Homo sapiens: one gene and its partner. The protein of the gene in region 2 interacts with the protein of the main gene of each other region in a pairwise test. Each region holds a gene or a part of one and is shown on either strand. Other genes may lie near its edges. The genes, in order: SHOX and SOX6.

The links.
Region 1: the proteins of SOX6 (region 2) and SHOX interact in binary tests that used the Homo sapiens proteins (3 or more experiments, as listed by UniProt).

What each region holds. Positions count from the first base shown.
Region 1 is NC_000023.11:633,512-640,795, reverse strand, and holds part of SHOX (short stature homeobox protein), read right to left. Parts: intron 6,179-7,284; coding exon 5,970-6,178; intron 1-5,969. UniProt on the Homo sapiens protein: Controls fundamental aspects of growth and development.
Region 2 is NC_000011.10:16,353,270-16,360,398, forward strand, and holds the start of SOX6 (transcription factor SOX-6), read right to left. Parts: upstream 3,278-7,129; 5' UTR 2,825-3,277; intron 1-2,824. UniProt on the Homo sapiens protein: Transcription factor that plays a key role in several developmental processes, including neurogenesis, chondrocytes differentiation and cartilage formation.

The DNA of each region.
Region 1 (7,284 bases), on a different chromosome or scaffold from region 2:
GAAGAGCCCTGTGAACCCAGCCCAGCCTCCCCAGGGAGCATCCTTCCCATGAGGCTGAACCAAGCACTTTGCACCTCTGGGAGCTGGGAGGTGACTGATGGTGGGCGCCCAGACACTTACCGCCCCTCTGTCTCCAGCCCTGCATCACTGACTACCTAGTACTGGAAATTGGGGTTTTTTTGGATTTTTTGTTTTGTTTTGTTGTGGTGGTGGTGGTTCTGAAATCAAGTCTCGCTCTGTCGCCCAGGCTGGAGTGCAGTGGCACTATCTCGGCTCACTGCAAGCTCCACCTCCCAGGTTCAAGCCATTCTCCTGCCTCAGCCTCCCGAGTAGCTGGGACTACAGGTGCCCACCACCATGCCCGGCTAATTTTGTATTTTAGTAGAGACGCGGTTTCACCATGTTGGCCAGGCTGGTCTCTTGTTTTTTGTTTTTGCTTTCTTTTGTTTTTGAGACGGAGTCTTGCTCTCTGGTCCAGGCTGGACTGCAGTGGCACTATCTCGCCTCCCTGCAACCTCCACCTCCCAGATTCAAGCAATTCTCCAGCCTCAGCTTCCCGAGTAGCTGGGATTACAGGCGCACACCACCACACCTAGCTAACGTTTGTATTTTTAGTAGAGATGGGGTTTCACCATGTTGGCCAGGCTGGTCTCGAACTCCTGACCTCAAGCGATCCACCCTCCTGGGCCTCCCAAAGTGCTGGGATGACAGGCGTGAGCCACTGCACCTGGCCTAGAACTGGAAATTGGGTTTTCTTTTTTGATTTTTGTTTTGTTTTTGTTTTATTTTGTTTTTGAGACAGAGTCTTGCTCTCTCATCCAGGCTGGAGTGCAGTGGTGTGATCTCACCTCACTGCAACGTCCACCTCCCAGGTTCAAGCGATTCTCCTGCCTCAGCCTCCCGAGTAGCTGGAATTACAGGTGCTCACCACCATGCCTGGCTAATTTTCGTATTTTAGTAGAGACGGGGTTTCACCATGTTGGCCAGGCTGGTCTCAAACTCCTGACCTCAAGCGATCCACCCTCCTGGGCCTCCCAAAGTGCTGGGATTAGAGGTGTGAGCCACCGCACCTGACCTAGAAGTAGAAATTGTTAAATCATCCGTGCCCTGCCTAAGTGAGACCTATGCGTTACCGCTGATGAACTTAAGGTGAAAAAGTGAGTTCCGAGCCAGTGGAAGTGGACTGTCGAACTTTCCAGCGTTCTGTGTGGGCGCCCCGCCCCCCAACTCCTGTAGACCCTGTAGGAGAACCGAAGTTTCCACCTTCAGACTTTAGCCACAAACGGAGAGGGTGAGCTGATGGCTAAAGAGTTCCAAATCCAGCCCCTTCTCCAATCTAGCTCTTGACACACCAAGCCCAGAAAATGTCTTTGCCCTTCTCGGCCTCCTCGGAAGTGTCTTTGCCCTTCTCGGCCTCCTCGGAAGCCCTGGGGAGCTGAAGGCGTCCCATTCATATTACCAAGGGTCCCCATACATGAAAGGGTCCCATTCATGACCAAGGGTCATGAGGACGCCCAAGGATAGCAGGCTTTGTGGTGGGGGCATTCTGCCCCTCTAAGGACTTCTGAGTCTTGGGGTAAACTATCAAGAAGTTGAGTGCAATAGCGCAGGGGACCCTCAGGAGGCTGGAGAAATTCACACAGGCCTCATGTGAAGATTTGCATGCAAATTCCACCCCCTCTCACCTCCTACGAGCCTCCTCTGCTCTCCCAGTATTGACAATCCCCTCCTCCACAGACAGACCAGCTGGAGAGTGCAGGCAGTTTAGCCTATGCCTGGTAATCTGGACACCACCCCCTCCTCTCCCCCACCACCACCTCCCTGACAGTCTTAGTCGCTTAATTCCTCCTAACAGGTTTTCTGTGGCAGAAAACCTGCACCTTGACCCACAAGGCAGTCACCACCCAAGAGAAATGATTCGTCCAGAGAACAGGCGTCCTCCGCCAAGGCGGTGAGTGAACCAGTCACTCCGGCTGTTGTGGGCAAAACACGTGCTGGGTCCCTCGGCCCACAGCCACCCTTACACACTGTGCATGGCCCAGGGCCGGTGCCCCTATGAAGGGAACCTCAGAAAACCCTCAGAGTTTGGGAGCAGCCAGGAGTCTACACAGCGCAACGTGAACTTGCTCTTGAACCCAACACGGAAGCTTCCAGCCCAGCTTTCGGAACTGGCTTTTCATTTCCAAAGTGGGTCCTACCGGGCTGCAGTGCGCCTGGAGAACCTGATCCTGTTTCCCAGCAAAGTCATCCTCCCTCACACCCCCGCCAAAAAGGCCCCTGCCTGGTGCTGACATCGAAATTCACCAATAATTTCCAAAGCTGGCGCCTTCAGACCTCCACCTCCACTGACCATCCAGGTGACCTGCCACTGTGCCTCTCCATGCCCACCTGGACTCTCCGCCTGTCTCCTCCAGGGCCCAGAAAGCAAGCCAGCCACCCAAAAGCCTCTGGAAGGGCATTTTTCAAAAAAGAAAATCCTCCTGAAACGTGGAAAGCCTCATTCACTCTCCCTTCAACACGGCGAGAGGAAAAAAAAAAATGATGAAGAATACAAGTGATGAATTAGCCGCTGCGTGAAGCGCTAATAAATCAGTCTTGGAGTGATTCACGATCCATTCCAATTAGGCCCGAATATGGTAAGTGAAGTGTGTGACACTGCTTAAGACAGTTATTTCTTCATTAAAGAGCACTCCCCGCTTTCTTTCCCAAATGCCGTAATGCGATTTCCTTTTGATTTCCATTACAGACAGTGAATAATGACATTTAATTTAGCTCTGCGCCATAAACCCAAAGATATTTGTTGTAATTAAATTACCGCCTGCCCCTCACCGTGGTCTCATAACTTTCGATTAGAAGCCTGACAGCTGGGTGATACGACTTTGCAGGGCCACGCTAAAAATAAAAGGTTAATCAGCAACAGCTTCTATCGGATGCTCAATTTATTTACAGCAAATTTCCACAGTAAATTGAAACTCTATCCGGTCACAGCACGGGACGGGCTGTACTGAGACGCATGTGACCCAAGAATTCACAGAGAGATGGGATTCAAATATGGTTTCTTTTTCTGTCCCTGCTCGTCCCCGTCCCCTCAACGCGGGACGTGGGTGTTGGAACTAATTGATTTTTATGACCCCTCAAAGCGCACTCGCCTTTACTATAGGATCCTTTCCCCCCGCGGCGATGGAGAATTATGTCTTTTATTGCATTCCCATGTTTGTTGTTATTATTATTTACCGTCGTTAAATTTTCATGCGACCCCTGCAATCGATAACCCCCAGCTTGTCCCCGATTTGTCTTTATTTTAGGGCGTTCTCGGGGTCCGCACACACCCCACAACCAATTTTCCGCAGCTGAACTAACGTGCTCTCGTCGGTAATAGACTACGGAAAGAAATAGTGTGGAATTAAATTACAAGTAATTTATTTTTATAGAAACAGTACATCAAGGGCTGGGATATATTGCAGATCCCAGGCACACAGACACCAGGAGATGACACATAAACTCGATGTCCCCTTTAGCGAAACTTTAATCTTTTCATTAATTTATACGGGGCAGCCCAATCCATCTTCTGCCAGAGGGGTGGACAGCGAGGAAACCCCTGTCTGATGCAGCTTCCTTCCCTCACTGAGGCCACAGACGCCCTAAGGAGGGACACAGTCCTTCCTCCAAGTCACCAAAGCCTCTCTCCCTCCTGGGCTGTATCGCTTTGGGGACCACAGCCCTCGGTAAAGATGCCTGGGGAGGGTTGATTTAATCCTAACGATCTTAGGGAAGCCTTTTAAAATGCAGCCACATGGGAAGACGGAAGAGAATCAGGAGCCAAAATATATATATATATATATATATATTTTTAAATGAAAGAGCTCGTAAAACCCTCTCCATCAAACGCATCTGTATCCTCATCTCCTAAGCAACATCGATGGAAAAGTTGTGTTTGAATGTGTTGACTCAATCACCCATCCCACAGGAACCGAAGGGAATCAGGGGCCAAAAATATATATATATTTTTATATGTATATATATGTTAATATATATATTTTTATATGTATATATATGTTTATATATATATTTTATGTATATATATGTTTATATATATATTTTATGTATATATATGTTTATATATGTATATTTTATATGTATATATGTTTATATATATTTCTTTATATGTATATATATGTTTATATATGTATATTTTATATGTATATATGTTTATATATATTTCTTTATATGTATATATGTTTATATATATTTTTATATGTATATATATGTTTATATATATATTTTATGTATATATATGTTTATATATGTATATTTTATATGTATATATGTTTATATATATTTCTTTATATGTATATATGTTTATATATATTTTTATATGTATATATATGTTTTTATATATATTTATATATATACAATATGTTTGTATATATTTATATATGTTTATATATTTATATATGTTTATATGTTTATATATATTTATACATATTTTATATATGTTAATATATTTATATATTATATATGTTTATATATTTATGTTTATATATTATATATGTTTATAGATTTATATATTATATATGTGTTTATATATTTATATATGTATATAGATTATATATATTTACATACATTTATGTATGTTTATATATTTATATATGTTTATATATAGAGACACACATATAATGAAAGATGTAACACACTTTGGATCAAATGCATCTGTATCTTCCTCTGCTCAGCAAAATCGAGAGCAAGCTGTGTTTGAATGTGTTGACCTCATAACCAGTCCTACGGGAACGGGCTTTCAGTTCGTCTCTTTGCTTTGAACGCCGTTTGCTTTGTCACGGTTCTCTCTCTGGTCGGCAATCTTAATTTCATTTATTTTTGACGGGGTCCCCAGGGTCCGGGGATCCTGACCGTCTCTCTCTCTCTCTCTCTCTCTCTCTCCCTCCCCCCACTTCTGTCCTGCCCAGAACCAGGAGAAAGGACTAGAGGAGTTGACCTTCCAGGGGAGCTGAACTGTCAGGCAGGGGCTGGAAGAAGCCATTTGGAGGCTCTCCCAGCAGCACCCCTGAAATAAACTCATACCTTTAAGTGAATGTTTAGAATGCGGAGGAAGGCTCTGCCCGCCCGTCCCTCTGCGCACACCCAAGGCCCCTCCGCCCCCCAGTGCCTGGTCTCATGGGGCAGCGTGAATTCGCGCGCTCCTCGGGGAGCCCCCGTGCCCCGCTAATAGTCTCCGCTCATCCAGATGCCCAACGTGCTCCTGCGCTCCCCACAGCCGGAGGGAGGAGGGGGTGGTTTGTAGCAGAGGACAGGGCTGGAGAGGGGAGGAGGGAGATAGAAACGGTAGGTGAAAAAACGGAGGAAAGAGAAGACCCTGTTTCTCTCCACCTAGGGACAGAGGACACCCCTCTCCTTTCATCCTAAGGAAACCTTTTCAATGCAGCCACACGGGAAGACGGAGGGGAATCAGGGGCCAAAAGACACATTTTTTTTTAAATGAAAAATCTTGTAAAACACTCTGGATCAAACGCATCTGTAGCTTCGTCTCCTAAGTATAATCCAGGGAAAGTTTTGTTTGCATGTGTTGCCCCTATAACCAATCCCAGGGGAACCGAAGGCAGTCAGGAGCCAATATATGGGTTCACCGGGTGTCTTTGCACCAAGGACGAACAAATATCTATAATATATACAATATACCCATCTGTATAACATATATATTTATTTGTTATTTGTATAATATATATGTATATATATTTGTTTGCTGTTGGTGAAAAACAAACGCAATGAACCCATCCTACAGGCCTCAGGCGTCTCCAAAAGTCCAGGAACCCCAGCCCGTCCCTCACCCAACCTCCCCGCGCTCCGGGAAGGGGACGGCGGCGGCCCGGGCGCAGGTGGCTGTACGCGTGCTGTGCGCTCCCGAGGACCAGGCGATGGCTCCGGGCCCCCCGCCCCCGCCCCCGGGTTCCTACCTGCACGCGCGCCTCGGAGAGCCCCAGGCGCTGGCTGAGCTCCTCGCGCATGAAGGCGTCGGGGTAATGGGTCTCGTCGAAGAGTCGCTCGAGCTCGTTCAGCTGCTCCAGCGTGAAGTTGGTGCGGCTGCGCCTCTGTTTCAGCTTGGTCTGCCCGTCCTCGTCCTCCGACTTCACGTCCTCGCGCTTCTCTTTGCATTCATAAATCCCTGCGTGGGGAGCGGAGGGCACAGGGCTGAGGCCGGGGAGGTTTTGCGCAACGTGGCGAACCCCTTCGTGCATCCCGCGGTGGAAAGGGGGCCCTCGAAAACCAATGCGCTTTGACGCAAAAACTGCGTGGGGTCCATAAGGCAAAAGCCGAGGAGGATACTCGCTGCTTTCCCAAAAACCTGGGCTTTGCACGAGCGTTGTTTTCTTGGCCTCATCTCAGAATCGTTTCCTCAATTATCCACTTCACCTCTGTTGACATAACCTAACCTTTTTTTCTTATTTTTTTTTTTAAGGAGAGTGGGGTGTCAAATCCTATTTTTAAGGGAAAGAATTTGAGGAAGAGCTGCCAACTGTGGGATCCCCGGCGGGACGCCCGGGAAGGACACGGGGAGGACCCGGGGCGGGTTGCAGATTCTAGGCCTACGGAGAGACGCTATCCCCACCGCTGCAGCGCAGGAGGGCTGGGGGTCCCTCCGCGATCTGGCGGAGCTAGGAGCCCCTACCCGAAGCCTGTTTCTCAGCAGAACAGCAGAACCGCGTCTGAGTACCTGAATGCGCCACCGCGCCTGGGGGCTGAACCGCGTGCGCAGAAATCTCTCCTTCCCACTTTTTCACACGCGGTCGGGCACCTACCCCACCAGAGTGTGCCAAAAATGGCACTTTCTCATCTCCAGTAGTTGGTGACCTGTCTGTATTTGCTGGGGGAGTCAGAAGGGCAGAAGACTCAGCCCTCAAGCGTTTCCAGGTGAAAAACCTTTTCTTCCTCATTTTAGACATTCAGCCTCTCTGACCAAGCTCAGGGGTTTAAGTAAAAGGTGTCTCCCTCGCTCCCCTTCAACCCAGGGCTGGTGGAAGTGGCATCTCCAACGCCCCTCTGTTCCTATCTCGGGCCTGCTGAGCACAGATGAGAAGCACGCGATGCCCTAATGAGATGTCCCTTGCTGTCAAGGGTAAGGGGCTGACATTTGGAAGTTTAGTCTGGAAACAGTCTCAAAGGGGCACAGGCAAGGCCGCTGCAACCAAGAAGCTTGCAAAGCTGACAAATCCAGGGTGTCTACAGGGAACGGGGTAAATACTAGCACCCTGTTCTGTCTTTCTTCCTTCC
Region 2 (7,129 bases):
ACAATATGTATTTAACACACTACCCGTCTAGAGCTGATTTCAGGGAATGCAGAGTAATTTAGATACCCTCTTAAAATATGACTACTATATAACATTACATATATCCTAACTTCTGAGGAAAAGAAATAGAAAAGCCTCTCATATGAGGACATGAATTCTTATAAATTATAATTGTCTGTGAAAGCTGAAGAAAGGTTTTTACCACCAACCCAAATTTCCACATTTTTTTATACACACCAAACAGTCTGGTTTCACAAATAACTAAAGTGCTGCTATCTTGTATTTCTCCCTCTGTACTTCCACCACCTCCTCCCTTTCTTATAGCTATTTGCTTTAAATTTCTCACTTGCATTTGCTGGAATTATCATAAACAGCTCCAGGAGAACATGAGAATCCAATTGTTTCCATGAATCATTGCACAGAATTGTTTGAGTTATCATTATAAAAGACAAGTATGACTACCTGCTGTCTTGCATACTTAAGGGATTCTTTACCAAGTACATATTTGCACACCTACCAAGGTACAGAATTTCTGGTTTTCCCAAGCTGTGGTGTTAGTTATAGGAAAGAATCCTGCATTATTTATCTGGTCCTGTTCTTTCTTCTCATATAACCACCACCTCCACCTCACGATTTCCCAAAATTGAGTAGTCCCCTGAAAAACTTTTACATTTATCATGCCTAATCTACCAGCTTTTTAGATTTCTTCAAAAGTAATACTTTATTTGCATCCATGGTGCCTAGAACTGGAAAACTGCTTGCTACCAGTCTTACCAGGATCTATTGCCAGAAGGAAAAGTACAGTATAATGGAAAGGTTTAGAGGAAAGACTTAAATCTCATTTACTATGTCTGTGAACTTCAGAAGTTACTTAACTCTCTGAGTCTCTATGTACCCATCTATAAAATTAGGGACAACACATCTTCCTTGAAAAGTTGTTGTGAAGAGATTAATTTGATATATGTGCAAATACCTGGTATTTGGTAGTTATGAAACAAATGCTAACTTTCTTTAAAGAAAACTTGACAGAAAAATGGTTTGACTCAAACAAAAACAAATAAAAATCCTTAAAGAAAAAGATTCTGAATTTTTACACATCACAATAAATAAAAATTCCACGGAATATAAGTTTTCCAGTCCCAATATACTCGTGACCCAGTGCTGAGTGAACTAATGACAAGAACCATGCCAAGAAAATAAAAAGCACAGGGTAAAAATATATTGTTACTGTTTCTCAAAAGGGGTATGGACAGGAGGGAATCACTTTTTACACAGGGAAGACCAAAGCCTACAGCATCTGCTGCTGATAACTGTATTCCTAAGGACAATAGAGTCCTGAGCTGTAGGTGCCTATTCAAACCACCTATTATTAACCTCTTTCCTTGATTTTCAACTAAAACGGTCCAAGTATTTGGAGACTGTAACCCATTTGCTCAGAATTAATTTTTAAACAGAAGCAGCCTTGCAGTATACTAAAATTGCTACCAGAGCTTAAATTAACTTGACAATAAATAAAAAGTCTGAGCTACCCTATCCTATGAAATACATGAATACCTTTCAAAGCCTGATTATTTTCTTGTCCCCTGGCCCAACACTAAATGTTCCAAAATGTTACTTGTTTCACACAATTTTTTTTTATTTCTAAATCAGGTCTAAAATCAAGTTGCTACTAGTGTGCTAAAGAACCCCAGCACATTCTCATGAGCTGATTGAAAGCAGCTTACCTTAAAATTCTCCTCTCACAATTCACTTTAGAAAATCAACTTGAGGAGTCATAGATTTGCTAGACTAACTGTTTGGTATTCTGGTCAATTCATTATCACAAAATAGGTATTATTAACTGTACCACAGCTTAGAACAATGACACACTATTCCATGTGTAGTTTGAGATCACTATTTCCACAATTTGAAGCTGAAAGTTCCATCATCAAGATAAACTTGCCTAAAGACCAAACTCACAAACAATAAGGTATCTAGGAAAGCTGGATAAGGAAAGAAACAAATTAATATTTTGAACTTTGACAGGCATGATGGAAAACAAATTCAAGGTGTGTGTTACTCAGAAAAATTCAAAAGAAATGTATCGCAGAATAAAAAGGAGTAAATTGAAAAGCATTGATAAAGCACTATTTTTAATGCACTTGCCAATCATCAATTTAATTTACTATAGTTTTATATAAATAATACTTTCAATACATAGTTATAGCATTAAATACTATAAATCTCAATGTAATACCAGTCTTGCTTAGTTATAGCAGCTTATGAACATTAATAATTTTAAGTTTTTACTAAAAACACATCAGCAATTACCCAGTGGTCTGCTTGTCAGTTGTGTTTCTTTGAAATGTTTATTATGATTAAATATTTTCATTAGTAAAAACATCTTTTACCATAGTGCATAAAATACCTTATCAGATGCAGCATATATTAGAAACTAGCCGTGTATATTGGAAAGATTGATTTTATTGAAAAGATTCATGTAGGGAATCTATGATTCCTCATAGATAATAGTACTCAGGACCTTAGATTATACAGAAAAAATAATCACATGTTAAAAATCTACGAGATGCTACAAATAAAGGTATGCATATTCAACCCTCAGGAAAACCAAATCTGTTTTTAAATAGTCTGTTGCAATTCCCTAGCAAGATTACAAATGTCATGCAAAAATGCTTTTCAAGTTATTACCTTATTACCATAACATAAGCTTTTCTTAACAAGCCATCATCCCACCCAATCAGGTAGGCTTTGAAGTTAGAAAAATTAAAAGGTAAAGTAATACAGCCAAGACCTGTGACAGCTAAAGGAAGCACAAATCACTCACATGAAGTGGCTGCTCTTCCACTCTTCAATCCGGCTTTCTCTTACCACATCAGCCAGAACTTCAGAACTTGAGGGCATAACACCTTTGACACCTTCCCAAATCACAAGAAACCTCTGACTGCCAACCAAAAAAAAAAAAAACCCAACCCCACAGCTAATTAATCTCTGCCAAGTCTCAGGCTACCAATTGTAGCCATAACTTTAAGCAACATCTAATTTGCTAAACAAAACACTGTTAACTTTGTTCAACAATTAAAGGAGTTAAAAACATAAAAGTAAATGAAAGAAGTGAAATCTCTTGGCCTGTTGGGAGATACAGTACCCCACATACCTTCTGCCACTGCTGCTACAGTTAAGCAAACTTTACAAGCTAGTCAAGCCATCATCCAATAGAGCCTATTTGCTGAGCAACAGTGGAGCTTTGTGGTTTGCCTCACAGTTGACAGTAAGTTATGAGCCCTTTGTGAGCACAGGGGAAGGAAAACAGAGATCGGAATTTGGCAGGAAAATATAATACAGAATTCTCCTGTCTATGGAACCTGAATTTTTGTGAAAACAATCAAGCATTGTTGAAAGAAAGAAAAGCAACTTTGACAGATGAAATATAGAGGGGCCCCTTTTAGGAAAACAGTAAACAAAGCGCCATTCAGGCCAGGTCCATTCTGTCATTTATAAAGATAGTTTCTTCTGTGTGGTGAGAGTTTACAGCAAAGAGTTCAGATTCAACAAATCAAGTGTAAAATCTCCCACAGTCCCCATTAAAAAAGCCTGCTAGGAAAAGACAGGAATGCCAAAGAGAAAAATATCACAAGTTTTTCTGTTTGGTAGAGAGGATACAATAAGTAGATGGGGTGAAAGGGACTCTAAGAGAAGTCTGAAAGACAAGCCAAAAAACTAACAATTGTTAATTATAAAAGGCTAATTTTGTCAGAGACAGGAAAAGAGGAGGACACTGGAGATCACTCAATAGAAATATGAAAGGAAGAAGCCATTCTTCATCATTGTTGGAGAACTATGTCTCTATTTCTCCAGGCTGGACCTCATGAGGTCATCATTGGCACGAAAGGCTCAAAAACTTGGGCTTGGTACTACTATAGTTTGGCCATCTGGAATGTCAGCACACAGTGCACTACTTTCTCCAAAGTATCTTAATTCCTCTTTCCAAAAATAGGCACCCTGGCCAGCTTTAGTCACCCAGACTGGAAAATGTACAGCACAGAATGAAATGAAAAGCATTTTTGTTTTCTCACCCTCCTCAACTAGAAATACGATTTCTGTGCGGGAGAATTAAGGAAGAGGGGCCCAGAGCACTGAAGCTCTGATTTACAGAGCCTATTTCTGCTATGCGTACGGTCGGCAATTGTTAGTACTTATAACCAACTGAGTTTTGGGCATCCATGGAATTCTTAAAGACGTATGTCTTTTCAGCCAACACAGTCATTGTTAATGCTTTAAAGAATAAAAAAGAGGGACCACAAGCCAATAAAGTCACAATTAGAATCAAATGACACATTGCTTGCACATCATTTGGAAAACATGTATAAAACTACTTGGTTTTTGCTACACCCAGCTAAAGTGACAGCCTTCGCTGTGTGTTAATCTGGAATCAAACCAAGCCACACCTAAACAAATAATGCTTAGTAGATGCAAAATAATACGGATTCTTTTATTTAGACTACCCAAACAATTTATTTCACCAACGAAATCCCATAATAACTAGCTACATTTTAAACATTCCTTTTAAAACAAAGCCCACAAAATGCTGAAGTGTGCCCATAGGTCAAGAATAATAAAAGCAAGCATGCATATGGATTCAATGCTGCAGATTTATTCAGCATTGGTTAATGGTTTCTATAGAGATTGATGTCAATCTCTCTGGCCTTTCTTGTGTCAACAGTAAGTTACAACAAGAAAGATCGTGGCTTTTGCCTTTGATTAGAAGAGGTATCTTTCTCTAGTTGACTGAAGGTCACAGCATTTGCAACATGTGCTCACTTATTACAGCTCCCATGCAGAATGTATACATAAAAAGCTGATTTACTCCCCAAAAAGGGCCAGAGCCATAGTGAACAAAAGATGACTCTGACCACATTAGATGGTTTTCTTTTCAAATAAATTCAGTCCTGATAAACCATTAAACATCAGCACATTACTAATAAAACTATAACTAGGAGACATCCTTCCACTCTGCCATTCTCCTGCCATCAACGACTTTCAAAATTATAGAATGCCAGGACAAATCATTACATTGTTTTACCTTAAAAATATATTTTACAAGAAAATTCTCAATTTTATTATGAAAGAACAAATAGTTCTACCAACAGGAAAGTGTTACAGCAAACAAACAGGGTAACTAAGGGGAAACCCAGTTGGTTTGAACATCTAGCAGCTGAACAGAACACAACATGACTAAAATATACATATATGCACATCGATTCATGTGGCAGAGCATCAACTTATGCCCCAATTACTGGTCTAGAAAGAACACCTAAATAAGAAGTGTTTGGAGAAATTATCTGGAAGACAGGCCATAAGAGGGAAAGAAATTAGCAGGATTTTTCTCAATAAGCTTCCTTTCAAGTAGTAGATATTTTGCCACAGTGTTCTGAAGGAAACAGAATCATGGTTTGACCTGAAAGAGAAAGAAAAGAAAATCCCTTTTCTCTGGCCTCAATTCTTTATCTGTAAAATGAGGTATGTTTCTAACACTGAAATTTTATTAGCCTATGACTCTAAGGCAATCCTAATAGGAGAAATACTAAAATTGGCTTGTGAACCAGAGAAGTTGCCAGTTCTGTGTCTACTACCTCTTTTATTTAGCCTACAAATATTTACTGACTACCTGCACTGTGTCAAGTACCATACTGACTGCCAGACAGACATACAGAGGCATATAAATAAGACAGCAACTTCCCATAGTCCACAGTCTAGCAAGAAATATAAATGGAAAATAAACCATTGAAAAGTGATAGGATAAGAAACCAGGTACTAGAGAGATATATTGTAGGAGCCCAGAAGAAGGAACAAATACCTCATTTTGGAGGGATCAGAGACATTACAGAAGACTCACTTAACCGGGTCCTCAGAACGAGAAGTTTGTCTGGTGGAACTAAAAAAAAAAAGGACATTCCAAGATGTGCAAGGGCTGAGACTTATAAAAGAATATGGTTACATTCCAAGAAGAGGAAGAACTTTGAAGTGACTGAACTATGGAGTGCATGGTGGGAAGTAGCAGGAAAAATATCTAGTAGGACAGAATGACAACAGATTGGAAAGGATTTCAAATGCAATTCAAAATAGTTTGGGTTTTATCCTCTGGGAAATAGGAAATCATTGGATTAACATAGGGAGTAGTAGGTCTGAATTTCCCTTATGAAAAAAAAATCTCCAGTGGCCTTAGGAAGGATGACTCATCCAAAAGGTTGTATATATGTTTATGCTCCTGTCATTTGTATTTATCTGTGCCTACCTGTCCTTTTCTTATCTTGTCCTTGGTGTTCTGCTCGACATGTGATACTGACCAGTTCCTCTCTACCTCTACGTTCTTTCAAGTCTCCATTTTAAGTCTCTACAAATGCCACTGATAAATGTTGTTGAAAGAAGGTAGATGAAGCGAGTAGGGAACGAAGAGGAGGAAATAATATGAATAATCACAAAGGAAATATCAAAGAAGAAGAGAGAAGTTATACTAATAAAAATAACAACCTAATGGCTAATGGTACTGAGTGCATACTATGCGACAAGCTCATTACTTTATGCTTCACAGTACCTCATTAAATCTCAAAACAACCCCACAACAAAGCTACCAATTTATCCCCATTTGCAGATGAGCTAAGTGAGGCTTAGAAGTGGTTAAGTAATTTGACTATGGTTACAAAGTAAATGAGAGAGAAGAGATTCAAGTGAGTCCTGTCTGACTCCAAATCCCATGCTTTTAACTTTTACACTATACTTCTAATGATATCAGTTACTGAATGTTAACCATGTGTCAAAAACTATCCTAGCTGCTTTGCACAGGCTATGTCTAAGACCTACAATAATCTTAAAAAGTAAATATCATTGTCCCCCATTTCACAGAAGAGAAGGGAGACTGAGTAGCTGATCTAAAGTTGTACAACTAGTAAGAGGCATCACCAGAGTTTGGGTGGTGATGCCTAGTCTGTTTGGATGCACCCTTTCCACTACATTATGATGTGTATATATTCTGATTCTTTCCTTCCCTACAGAACTCTTCCCCATCTCTACATTTCCAGACTCTACCTTCAAGGCTCAGCTAATATCTTACTTCTTCCAGAAGCCTGTCCAC